2 separate regions of the Homo sapiens genome follow, and region 2 is linked to region 1. Evidence: fine-mapped expression QTL. A gene starts in region 1. The other region holds a variant in brackets. All regions are shown on one strand. Distances are between the middles of the regions. Region 1 holds the start of FUT7 (fucosyltransferase 7). Region 2 holds the start of LOC124902313.

Region 1 (5,369 bases):
CTGTAGAGAGCGACAGAGGACAGGCTGACCCCATGGGTGGCTCTGACGGCGCTTCCCAGACTCAGTTTCCCCCCTGTGAATGGGGTGGAGTAGCGCTGTGTGGTGTCCAGTGTCAGGGCGCACATAGAAGGCGCATCCTCAAGTGAATGAAGACCTCCGAGGCCACAGCTCCCCACTCCTCCCAGCTCCTTTGCAGCAGGAAGGTGACCCTGGGCTAGTGAGTGAGGGATCAGCTTCCCACCCCAGCCCGCAGCCTCAAGGCACTTGCTTTTCTCTGCTCAGTCCACAGGGCTGGGTCAGGGCAGGAAGCTACCAGCAGGTCTTTCCCACAAGCCACAGCCATGGGTGAGGGGGGCTTCCTGCCCTCAACCTGCCCACCCCTACCTGGGGTAGGGACAAGCCCTGTGCCCCAGCCCCGGGGGCTTAGCCTGTTGGGGCCCTGGTCAGCACCACCCGTGGGTTGGCCTCTCTCCTCCTCGCCCCACTCTCCACCGTCCACTACAGGGGCTCCCTGGCTGCAGCCGCATCCCCAGTGCCTCCCCAGCACTGGCCACCAGAGGGAGCTACAAGGCACAGGTCAGACCCTGTCACCCCAGACACCCTCCAGCCTGCGGGCCTGGGAGATGGGCGATTTCAGCCTGGCCAGGCCTCTGACGTCCGTTCCCTACTCTTCCCCAACCTTGGCCTGTTTTGGTTTTTGTTTTGAGACAGGGTCTCATTCTGTTGCCCAGGCTGGAGTGCTGTGGTGTGATCACGGCTCACTGAAGCTTCAACCTCCTGGGCTCAAGCCATCCTCTCACCTCAGTATCCCAAGTAGCTGAGACCACAAGCGTGAGCCACCACGCCCTGCTAATTCTTGTATTTTTGGTAGAGATGAGATTTCACTACACTGCCCAGGCTGGTCTCGAACTCCTGGGCTCATCGCCTTGGCCTTTTGGGGGACACAGAAGGCTCTCTGATAAGGGGCCGTCTGGCGGAGGCTGTAGGAACTGGGGTAGCCAGTGGGCAGCCCGGCACAGGGAGGGCTCTCAGGCGGAGGGTGAGCAAAGGCCCAGAAGTCAGGCGACAGGACCCCCCGTGGGGAACAAGCAGCCCCATGGCCGTGGGGGCGACATGTCAGGGGAGGGCAGATGCAGGCTCTGTGGCCCTGCACGGAGGTGACCCATGAGACACTGGCCAGACCCACGAGGCACTGCTCAGATGTTTATTGTCCACCGCCCTCCCTCCCTGAGCCCAGAACAAGCTGGTTTGCTCCCCGTGGTCTCCTGGGCCCCGCCCCAGCCTACACACAGGGACCTCAGAACTATGGACGTGGCAGGGACCCGTGCCTGTGTCTCGGGGACCACAGGGCCTCTGCTACCGAGGAAGCTCGGGGTCCCAGGTTTGGCCCCCACAAACTTCAGGCTGGGGTGCCCCCCAGCCCCAAGGGCCCTGCCTTTCACCCTCTTCCAGCCAGGCCTTCACCCACCCAAGATTTGTTCAGGGTGGGGAGGGTCCTCGGCAGCCTTTCCCCTCCCGTCTGCCGCAGCAGGCACCCGTTACCTCCCTCCCACTCTCACCTCCTCTGCATGCTCCAGTGCCCACCTGCACCCCCCACCCCTGCTTCCTGACCTCTGTGCCCAGCCTCCCGTTAGCCCGCTGCTTGCCGGTAAGGGCCGGATGCCTGGTGGTTTGATTTCGACACCCAGCCCTTCCACCCACACCCACCTCCCCCGGCCAGCGGATCTCAGGCCTGAAACCAACCCTCAAGGTCCTCATAGACTTGGCTGCGGGGTAGGTGTGGGTAGCGGTCACAGATGGCACAGAAACGTTCCCGCCAGTCGGTGAACAGTCGCACGCGGAGCCTGTCACGCCAGGCAAAGAAGCGTTGGTATCGGCTCTCATTCATGCCAGTGAGGAAAGCCGCCAGCTCTCGGGCTGAGCCAAAGTCATCCACATGCACGAAGGCGTCAGCCGGCACGAAGGCCTCATAGGTGGCCCGTGGGGGCCCCAGCACCACTGGCACAGTGCCAGCCACCAGTGCGTTGCGCCAGAATTTCTCCGTAATGTAGTCGCGGTGCTGAGAGTTCTCAAAGGACAGGTAGAAGCGGTACTGGGCCACGGTGGGCACCAGGCAGCTGGCGCACAGTGGCCGTCCATTGGCACGGCCAAAGACATCCACCCGCAGATGAGGCGCCAGCTGCCGGTACAGCCTGGCACGCAGCTGCCGCTCCTGGAAGTTGCTGACCACCCAGGCGGCCACCCTGCTCTTGGCTGGCAGCGGTGGCGAGGGCCCCCAGTGGGGCTCCAGGCGGCCATAGGGCACAAAGATGTCCGAGTCGCGCCGGTAGCTCAGCACCCAGTTGAAGATGCCTCGGAGGTGGCTGAGGCCGTGGGTGTGGCTAGGAGACTCCATGGAGGCCCACACCCAGGGCTGCCCTCGCGGCCGCTGGGCCAGGGGCAGGTGGGACCGCCGGGTCTGCAGCTCGCGGTGGTGGAAGACCACGGCGTCGGCGCTGGCCAGCAGGCTTCGGTTGGCACTCAGGTGGCAGCGGGCGATGCCGTAGCGGGTGCAGGTGTCGCTGGGCAGCTCTGGGGGCTGGTCAGTGAAGGGCCAGTGCCAGACAAGGATGGTGATCGTGGGCTGGGGTGCCGGGGTACCCCGAGGGGCTGACCCCAGCAGCCACAGGAGCCAGAGGGCAGCGAGCAGAGCCACCCCGGCCAGGACCCCCAAGCCTCGCAGCCTCCGGGTGGGGCCGTGCCCTGCAGCAGCACGAGGGAGGGGAGGCTCTGTCACTTGGGCTCAGGGACATCCACACGCCCCACTCAGCGCCAACCCCGTCCTCCCCTCCCATGGGCTCAGGGACACCCACATGCCCCACTCAGCGCCACCCCCGTCCTCCCCTCCCATGGGCTCAGGGACACCGACATGCCCCACTCAGCGCCACCCCCGTCCTCCCCTCCCAGGTTGCCTAGCTGTCCCCAGCTTGGGCCTCCCCGAGGGCCAGACACTCACCAGCATTATTCATCCACAGTCTCCCAGGATCAGTCAGCCAAGAGACCCGAGATTCTCAAATCACGGCAGCCGCCAGAGGTGCCCCTGAAATCACAGCTACGCCCTAGCTCAGCCCCGCCTGGAACTGTGCTCCTTTTATCTCTGCCCAAGGTGAGGGAACTCAGGGGACCTTCCTGCTCCTGCCCCGCCCCTGCCCCCACAACCTTTGGCATCAACCACTGTCCCCACCCCCATCTCGGGGACTTGCTAGTCCTGGGGCTGCTGGGAGGGGTACAGCCACAAGAGGGATGCCAAGCCAGGGCAATATGACGCCCCCACAGCCCACCCCACTGGTCTCCAGAGAGGCCCAGAGATGTCCAGCTGGGCAGGCAGAGGACAGAGAGGCTCGGGCAGGCTTGGCCCAGGGCAGAGAAGGCCCAGGTGCAGGCACCCTGAGCACAGATGGCCCCCCAGCCCCCACCCAGCTACCCAGGCCTGGGCGCTGCAGACAGCGAGTGCACTTCCCCAGAGGGCCAGGTGGCTCCTCCCACGGCAGTATCACCCACTTCCCCCAGCTCACCACCAGCTGGGCCCTGGTCTCCCAGGAGAATCTTACACATTGAAGATGTACTGTGCTCAGCTCTTTGCCGGAAGCTAAAGCTCCCAATTGGGCCATCCCACCCCACTCTGCCACCTCTGCCATCTAGGAACCCAGATGCCCGGAGAGGAGGTCTGTCCTGGGGCCCTTAGTGTCTTCCCACAGGAGCCCAGCGCGTGCCTGCAAGGGCCTGGTCCCGGAATGAACTGTGGATGGAGGCTGCTTTGTCCTTTTCCCCGTCCAGATCCATGCCCATAGACACCGCTGACTATAGGCTGGGCCCAGGGTCCCTTCCTCCAGCCTGCAGCAGAGGGGCTTTCCAGGCTGGAAAGGGAAGGAGTCCTTTTGTCCCTGACGCAAGCGGGTTGGGGGCCAGCACCCGCTCCAGGAAGAGGAAGGGATCCAGCCTGAAGTCCAGACTCCCCGCTCCCTCTAAGCCAGGGCCTGGAGCCTGGAGGCCAGGTTCCTTCTTCTACACCAGCCCACGTTGGGTGCCAGCCAGGCTGGGATGGCCCTGCGGGGTCACCCTGAGCCCCAGCCAACCAACACCCCACTCTCAGCCACAGTGGGAGGCCCCATCAGCCTCTTCACCCAACCACGTTGCCACTCTGCTGCACGGGACCTTGTGTGGTCCCAGGCGTGGCCAGACCCAGACGTCCTGGAGATCTCAATGCAGGTCAGGCTTGGTTTGTTTGTTTGTTTGTTTGTTTGTTTTTTGAGAGGGAGTCTTGCACTATCGCCCAGGCTGTAATCCCAGCATTTTGGGAGGCCAAGGCTTGTGGATCACCTGAAGTCAGGATCAAGTGGTGCGATCTTGGCTCACTGCAACCTCCACCTTCCGGGTTCAAGTGATTCTCCTGTCTCAGCCTCCCAAGTAGCTGGGATTATGGGTGCCTGCCACCACGCCCAGCTAATTTTTGTATTTTTAGTAGAGATGGGGTTTTCCCATGTTGGCCAGGCTGGTCTCAAACTCCTGACTTCAGGTGATCCACAAGTTTCAGCCTCCCAAAGTGTTGGGATTACAGGCATGAGCCACCGCGCCCAGCCAAGTTTGCTTTTTTGTGTGTGGGTTTTTGTTTTTTGTTTTTTGAGACAGGGTCTTGCTCTGTTGCCCAGGCTGGAGTGCAGTGGCGCAGTCACGGTTTGCTGCAGCCTCAACCTCCTGGGCTCAAGCAATGCTCCCACCTCAGCCTCCCAAGGAGCTGGGTCTATGGGTGTGCACTACCATGCCTGGTTAATTTTTTAAAATTTTTTGTAGAGGCAGAGTCTTGTTATGTTGTCCAGGCTAGTTTCAAACTCCTGGCTCAAGCAGTCCTCCCACCTCGGCCTCCCAAAATGCTGGGATGCTGGGAATGAGGACGCGTCTGTCCTGTCAGGTCTTTTGGGGGCTCAGATCGTGTGTCCTGGGAGGAATGGCAACCATGAACTGTTGTCCAGACCTTTGCCCCAGCACCCTCAGAGGGGGCCTGCCTCCCACCACCCCTGTCCCTGTCCTGTTCTACTTTTGGGCCCCAGGGGCTGCTGGCCTCTCCCCGGCCCCACAGTGAGGACAAGGCTGCCTTGGGAGGGGAACCAGGCAGCTGGAGACTGAAGTGGGAGGATCCCACTGTGGGGACAGAGGCAAGACTGGGACAGGGTGGTAGTCAGAGGCCCCCACCCCTGTGGCGCAGTGTAGCCTCTGAGCTGAGCTTTGCTGCGGAACTTGTGCAACGGCTGGAGGGAGGGGGGCTGGAGGGAGGGGGACTTGGAGGGAGGGGGCTTGGGAGGGGGGCTGGAGAGAGGGGGGTTTGGAGGGAG
Region 2 (5,369 bases), 68 kb after region 1:
TCTCGTGTGTAGGGACAGCCCCCGTCTGTGTGGCCATCCTGGCATCTTGGGGCCACCTCACTGTCACTAGTGCTCCTGTTTGGATGAAAGATTCTCTACTCCTCCACCATAGAGGCCCCCCGCCTCCGGCCTCTGCAGAGGGATTTCTCACGATTCTCCAAGCTCTGGTCTCTGACCTCAGGCCAGCCTTGACCCTGGAGCAGTGCTGTGGTCTTGGCTCTCAGGCACGGGAGCTCAGGACTGAACTGTGTGTTTCCTGCCACTCAGCAGCCTGCACCTCAGGATGATGGGGCCGCTTTGGGTGCAGGGCTGTGCCTTGGCCGTGGGTATGGAGCGTGGGGGTGGGAAACATGGAGCCACAAATGTTTGACGGCAGCTGACACCCTTCCTTCTCCCCCGAAGCTGGAGGGGAGCGGTGATCGAGCCTGAGCAGGGCACCGAGCTCCCTTCAAGAAGAGCAGAAGTGCCCACCAAGCCTCCCCTGCCACCGGCCAGGACACAGGGCACACCAGGTGAGGCCACACCTGCACCCCTTCCTCCCCGGGCGCTCAGGGGCTGGTGGCTGATGGGTGCAGGCTTCGTCTCAGCCATGGTGGGTGGCGCCCCCGCCCTGGTGTGCACCTTGCCCTTCAGCATCCCCCTGTTGTCTGAGTCCTCACAGGCTCTGCAACCTTGGTGACACCATGTGGCTCTTGGCCTGCTGTCCCTGAGCACATGGCTGCAGAAGAAGGTGTGTCTGAGAGGTTTGTGTCTGGGCCAGGCTGCCCCACGGGATCCCTGGAGACTGCTGCCCGTGCTGTGTCCCCTGTCTCGGCCTGGCCAGTCCCAGGCAGCTCTGGGGGCCACTTCATTCTCAGCACCGTTTGTTGGGGGCCTCCCAGGTGCGGGCCTTCGGCCAAGCTCAGTGCATGACCTGAGGCCTCTTTCAACCTCATGACACCCTCTGACACGATAAGCCACTCACCCTCCCGTTCTCCAGACTGAAAAGCAGGGCTGAGGACAGCCACCCCCAGAGTCGTTTGCTTGTCTGTGGGGGCTCATGGCAGGTCGCTGAGTCTGGAGCCCTGCTCTCATCATGCCCCCCAGGTGTCTCTGAGGTGGGGAGGGAGCCCAGAGCCAGGACTCCCAGCCCCGGGCCTGTGAGGGATGTGTAGCAATCTCTGCGGCATCAATGAGGGCAGAGGCAGAGGCAGAGGCATAGACATGCCATGAGCACAAGGAGGCCTCAGAACCTTTCCTGAGAGGACGTGTGGTTTGGTGCCGTTACACACGTGTCAATCCACACATTAGTCAATGTTGGCCGGGCGTGGTGGCTCACACTTGTAATCCCAGCACTTTGGGAGGCTGAGGTAGAAGGATCTCTTGAGTCCAGGAGTTCAAGACCAGCCTGGACAACACAGTGAGGCCCCATCTCTACAAAAAAAAAAGAAATTTATATATATGTGTATATTTGAGACAGAGTCTTGCTTTGTCACTTCACTGCAACGTCTGCCTTCTGGGTTCAAGCAAGTCTCCTGCCTCAGCCTCCCTAGTAGCTGGGATTATAGGCACCCGCCACCACACCTGGCTAATTTTTGTATTTTTAGTAGAGACGGGGTTTCGCGATGTTGGCGAGGCTGGTCTCAAACTTCTGACCTCAGGTGATCTGCCCACCTCGGCCTCCCAGAGTACTGGGATTACAGGCGGGAGCCACCGTGCCCAGCCAAAAAAATTTAAAAAAAGGGAACGAAGGGACTGTAGCGCGTGTGCACAGTGCGATTCCCGTGGAGCACCTGAAGCCCACGTGGCAGAAGGAGCGTGTTTGAGTCGAGGATGTTCATCGCGAGGTCTGCACCCGTCCGTGTTTCACATTCTGAGTTGGCACCACACTCACCCACGTCTCCACAGGCTGTGCTCACTGTGCTGTCCCAGCGCCCTTGGGGCAGCCACCCTTGTCCCTTTGGCCAGAGGCCACCGAGGCCCAAGGAGGGTGTGCCTGCCCAGGCGCCAGGTGGAGGTGCATGGGCCCCAGTCAGGTGGTCGGGTGACAGGTGCCATCCTGTGCAGTCTCCAGAGGTCTCAGGCCCTTGGCAGGCTGTGTTCTCCCTGGGGGCTGCTGCAGCCTCTGTGGCCCTGGCCTTTGCTGTGCCCACCACCGCCCTTCCCGTCGTCCCAAACCCACCGTCATCTTTGCCCCATGGGGGTCACAGCAGTGCTCTGCCTGAGGGTGTCCATCTGTGCCGACGCCAGGACCACGTCCGCCATGGCCTGTGCTCTCTCCCCCCTACTAGTGCATCTGAACTATCGCCAGAAGGGCGTGATTGACGTCTTCCTGCATGCATGGAAAGGATACCGCAAGTTTGCATGGGGCCATGACGAGCTGAAGCCTGTGTCCAGGTCCTTCAGTGAGTGGTTTGGCCTCGGTCTCACACTGATCGACGCGCTGGACACCATGTGGATCTTGGGTCTGAGGAAAGGTACCTGGTGCTTTCTGGGGAGGGGCTGAGCCCTCCGTGTGGGCCTCGTGTGCTGAGGCAGAGTGTGGGTTGCACACGGGGTGAAAGCTGCTGTTTGCATCTGACCATGGGTTTTCCCTTCTCCTGGGTGCGGGAGTGGACGTGTTGGCTGTGGTCAGTTCCTGTTCTTGTCCAGCCACCCAAGGCACACACAGGGCCGCTGTCCCCAGACCTCTGCAGGAGTTGAGTGTGGACTCTTTGGGGGACGTCCAAGGGACATTCCCAGGCTGTGCTTCTCTTGCAGCTGGGGGTGGTGGGATGAGTGACTGTGGGGCCCCGCTGGTCCCAGATCTCAGCAGCATCCTTCATAGACCAGCACATCCACTTTGAATTGGGAGTATGTGTCTTCGGTTATTTAAGCGATAATTTAAACATTTGCCTAATTTTTTGAATAGGTTGAAGACCACCAGTAAACGACGTGTGTAATTTTTTTGGGTCGTAGCCTTTGGTTGTGACCCATTGGTGGCCATAGCAACTGCACTGCTGACTCCGTTTTATTAACAAATGTTGACGACTTCAAGATTTACCCCCTTGAGATAGGAGGTGATATTGAAGCCCTGCAGGGGAACGATAACGCCCCAGACATGGGTTTGGTTTTTTGTTTTTGTTTTTTTGTTTTTGAGATGGAGTCTTTCACTGTCTCCTGGGCTGGAGTGCAATGGCGCAATCTCGGCTCATTGCAACCTTGGCCTCCTGGTTTCAAACGTGGGTTTTTTGGAGACAGAGTCTAGTGGTGTGGCCCAGGCTGGAGTGCAGTGGCACGATCTCAGTTCACTGCAGCCTTCGCCTCCCGGGTTCAAGCTATTCTCATGCCTCACCCTCCCCAGTAGTTGGGACCACAGGCATGCGCCACCA[T/C]ACTCAGCTAATTTTTGTGTTTTTAGTAGAGATGGGGTTTTCCCATGTTGTCCAGGCTGGTCTCTAACTCCTGGGCTCAAGCAATCCACTTGCCTCAGCCTCCCAAAGTGCTGGGATTACAGGCATGAGCCACCACGCCCAGCCAAATGTATTTTGAAGATGGATAGATAATAGGAAAACGTTGGAGCCATCCATTTGTCTCTGCATCCTTTACTGTTTTATGTCATAGAATTTGAGGAAGCCAGGAAGTGGGTGTCGAAGAAGTTACACTTTGAAAAGGACGTGGACGTCAACCTGTTTGAGAGCACGATCCGCATCCTGGGGGGGCTCCTGAGTGCCTACCACCTGTCTGGGGACAGCCTCTTCCTGAGGAAAGCTGTAAGTGTCTTGGGGTGTCCTGCAGGGAGATGGTGGACTCGCATTCAAGCAGTTACCCCTTTAGTGGACTTGTGGGGACGTGACTGTCTTCCTGTTTCCTCTTCAAATGCACTGGAGTCTGTTTCTGAGCTCATATTCGTGAGCTGATGAAGCCACTTTGATCACCACTGGCCTTGTAGAGACATTCACTCAGTGCAGAGTGATGCCCGTTTCCTTGCTGCTGTGTTGACCCCAGAGAGCCTTCAGTGTCTCCACTGAACTGCATGAAAGGGTGTAGACGAGGCCTCTGGGTGACCTGAACGTTGGTTCTCTACTCTGCTCATATACCAGGAGGATTTTGGAAATCGGCTAATGCCTGCCTTCAGAACACCATCCAAGATTCCTTACTCGGATGTGAACATCGGTACTGGAGTTGCCCACCCGCCACGGTGGACCTCCGACAGCACTGTGGCCGAGGTGACCAGCATTCAGCTGGAGTTCCGGGAGCTCTCCCGTCTCACAGGGGATAAGAAGTTTCAGGTAAGGGGGCAGGCTTTCTGGCTGGATGCGCCTCCCCTGGAGCTACCTTTTGCTCATCACAGCAGGTACTGTGTGTGTGTGTGTATGTGCATGTGTGTTTTCAGGTTTTTTACTGTGATAAAACACACAAAACGCACCACCTTAACCATTTCCAGGCGTGGTCGGTGGTGTTACATTCACGCTGTTGCAGGCGTGCAGGTCGGTGGTGTTACACACATTCACACTGTTGCAGGCGTGCAGGTCGGTGGTGTTACACACATTTGGGCTGTTGCAGGCGTACAGGTCAGTGGTGTTACACACATGCTGTTGCAGGAGTACAGGTCGGTGGTGTTACACACATTCATGCTGTTGCAGGCGTGCAGGTTGGTGCTGTTACACACATGCTGTTGCAGGAGTACAGGTCGGTGGTGTTACATGCTGTTGCAGGCGTGCAGGTCGGTGGTGTTACATTCACGCTGTTGCAGGCGTGCAGGTCGGTGCTGTTACACACATTCCTGCTGTTGCAGGAGTACAGGTCGGTGGTGTTACACGTGCTGTTGCAGGTGTGCAGGTCGGTGGTGGTACACACATTCATGCTGTTGCAGGAGTATAGGTCGGTGGTGTTACACACATTCACTGTTGCAGGCGTGCAGGTCGGTGGTGTTACACATTCACGCTGTTGCAGGCGTGCAGGTCGGTGGTGTTACATTCACGCTGTTGCAGACGTGCAGGTCAGTGCTGTTACACACGCTGTTGCAGGCGTGCAGGTTGGTGGTGTTACATTCACACTGTTGCAGGCGTGCAGGTCGGTGGTGTTACACACATTCATTCTGTTGCAGGCGTGCAGGTCAGTGTTACACACATTCACGCTGTTGCAGGCGTGCAGGTCGGTGGTGTTACACACATTCACGCTGTTGCAGATGTGCAGGTCGGTGCTGTTACATTCACGCTGTTGCAAGCGTGCAGGTCGGTGGTGTTACATTCACGCTGTTGCTGGCGTGCAGGTCGGTGGTGTTACACACATTCACACTGTTGCAGACATGCAGGTCGGTGCTGTTACACACATTCATGCTGTTGCAGGCGTGCAGGTCGGTGGTGTTACATTCACACTTGCAGGCGTGCAGGTCGGTGGTGTTACACACA

What was found.
Region 2: its variant is fine-mapped to the expression of FUT7 in whole blood (TOPMed, PIP above 0.99).

The regions. Positions count from the first base shown.
Region 1 is chr9:137,028,984-137,034,352 of GRCh38, forward strand. FUT7 (fucosyltransferase 7) reads right to left here and starts at 3,105. Exons shown (of 2, transcript NM_004479.4): 1 at 2,996-3,105; 2 at 1,191-2,742. The coding sequence starts at 3,008. The coding sequence ends at 1,727. LINC02908 (long intergenic non-protein coding RNA 2908) reads left to right here. Exons shown (of 3, transcript NR_171031.1): 2 at 3,015-4,248. RefSeq lists enhancers at 1-139, 3,140-3,249.
Region 2 is chr9:137,097,426-137,102,794 of GRCh38, forward strand. MAN1B1 (mannosidase alpha class 1B member 1) reads left to right here. Exons shown (of 13, transcript NM_016219.5): 5 at 403-512; 6 at 2,271-2,456; 7 at 3,580-3,728; 8 at 4,059-4,247. LOC124902313 reads left to right here and starts at 4,254. Exons shown (of 3, transcript XM_047424371.1): 1 at 4,254-4,487. The variant T/C (reference allele first, on the strand shown) is at 3,351.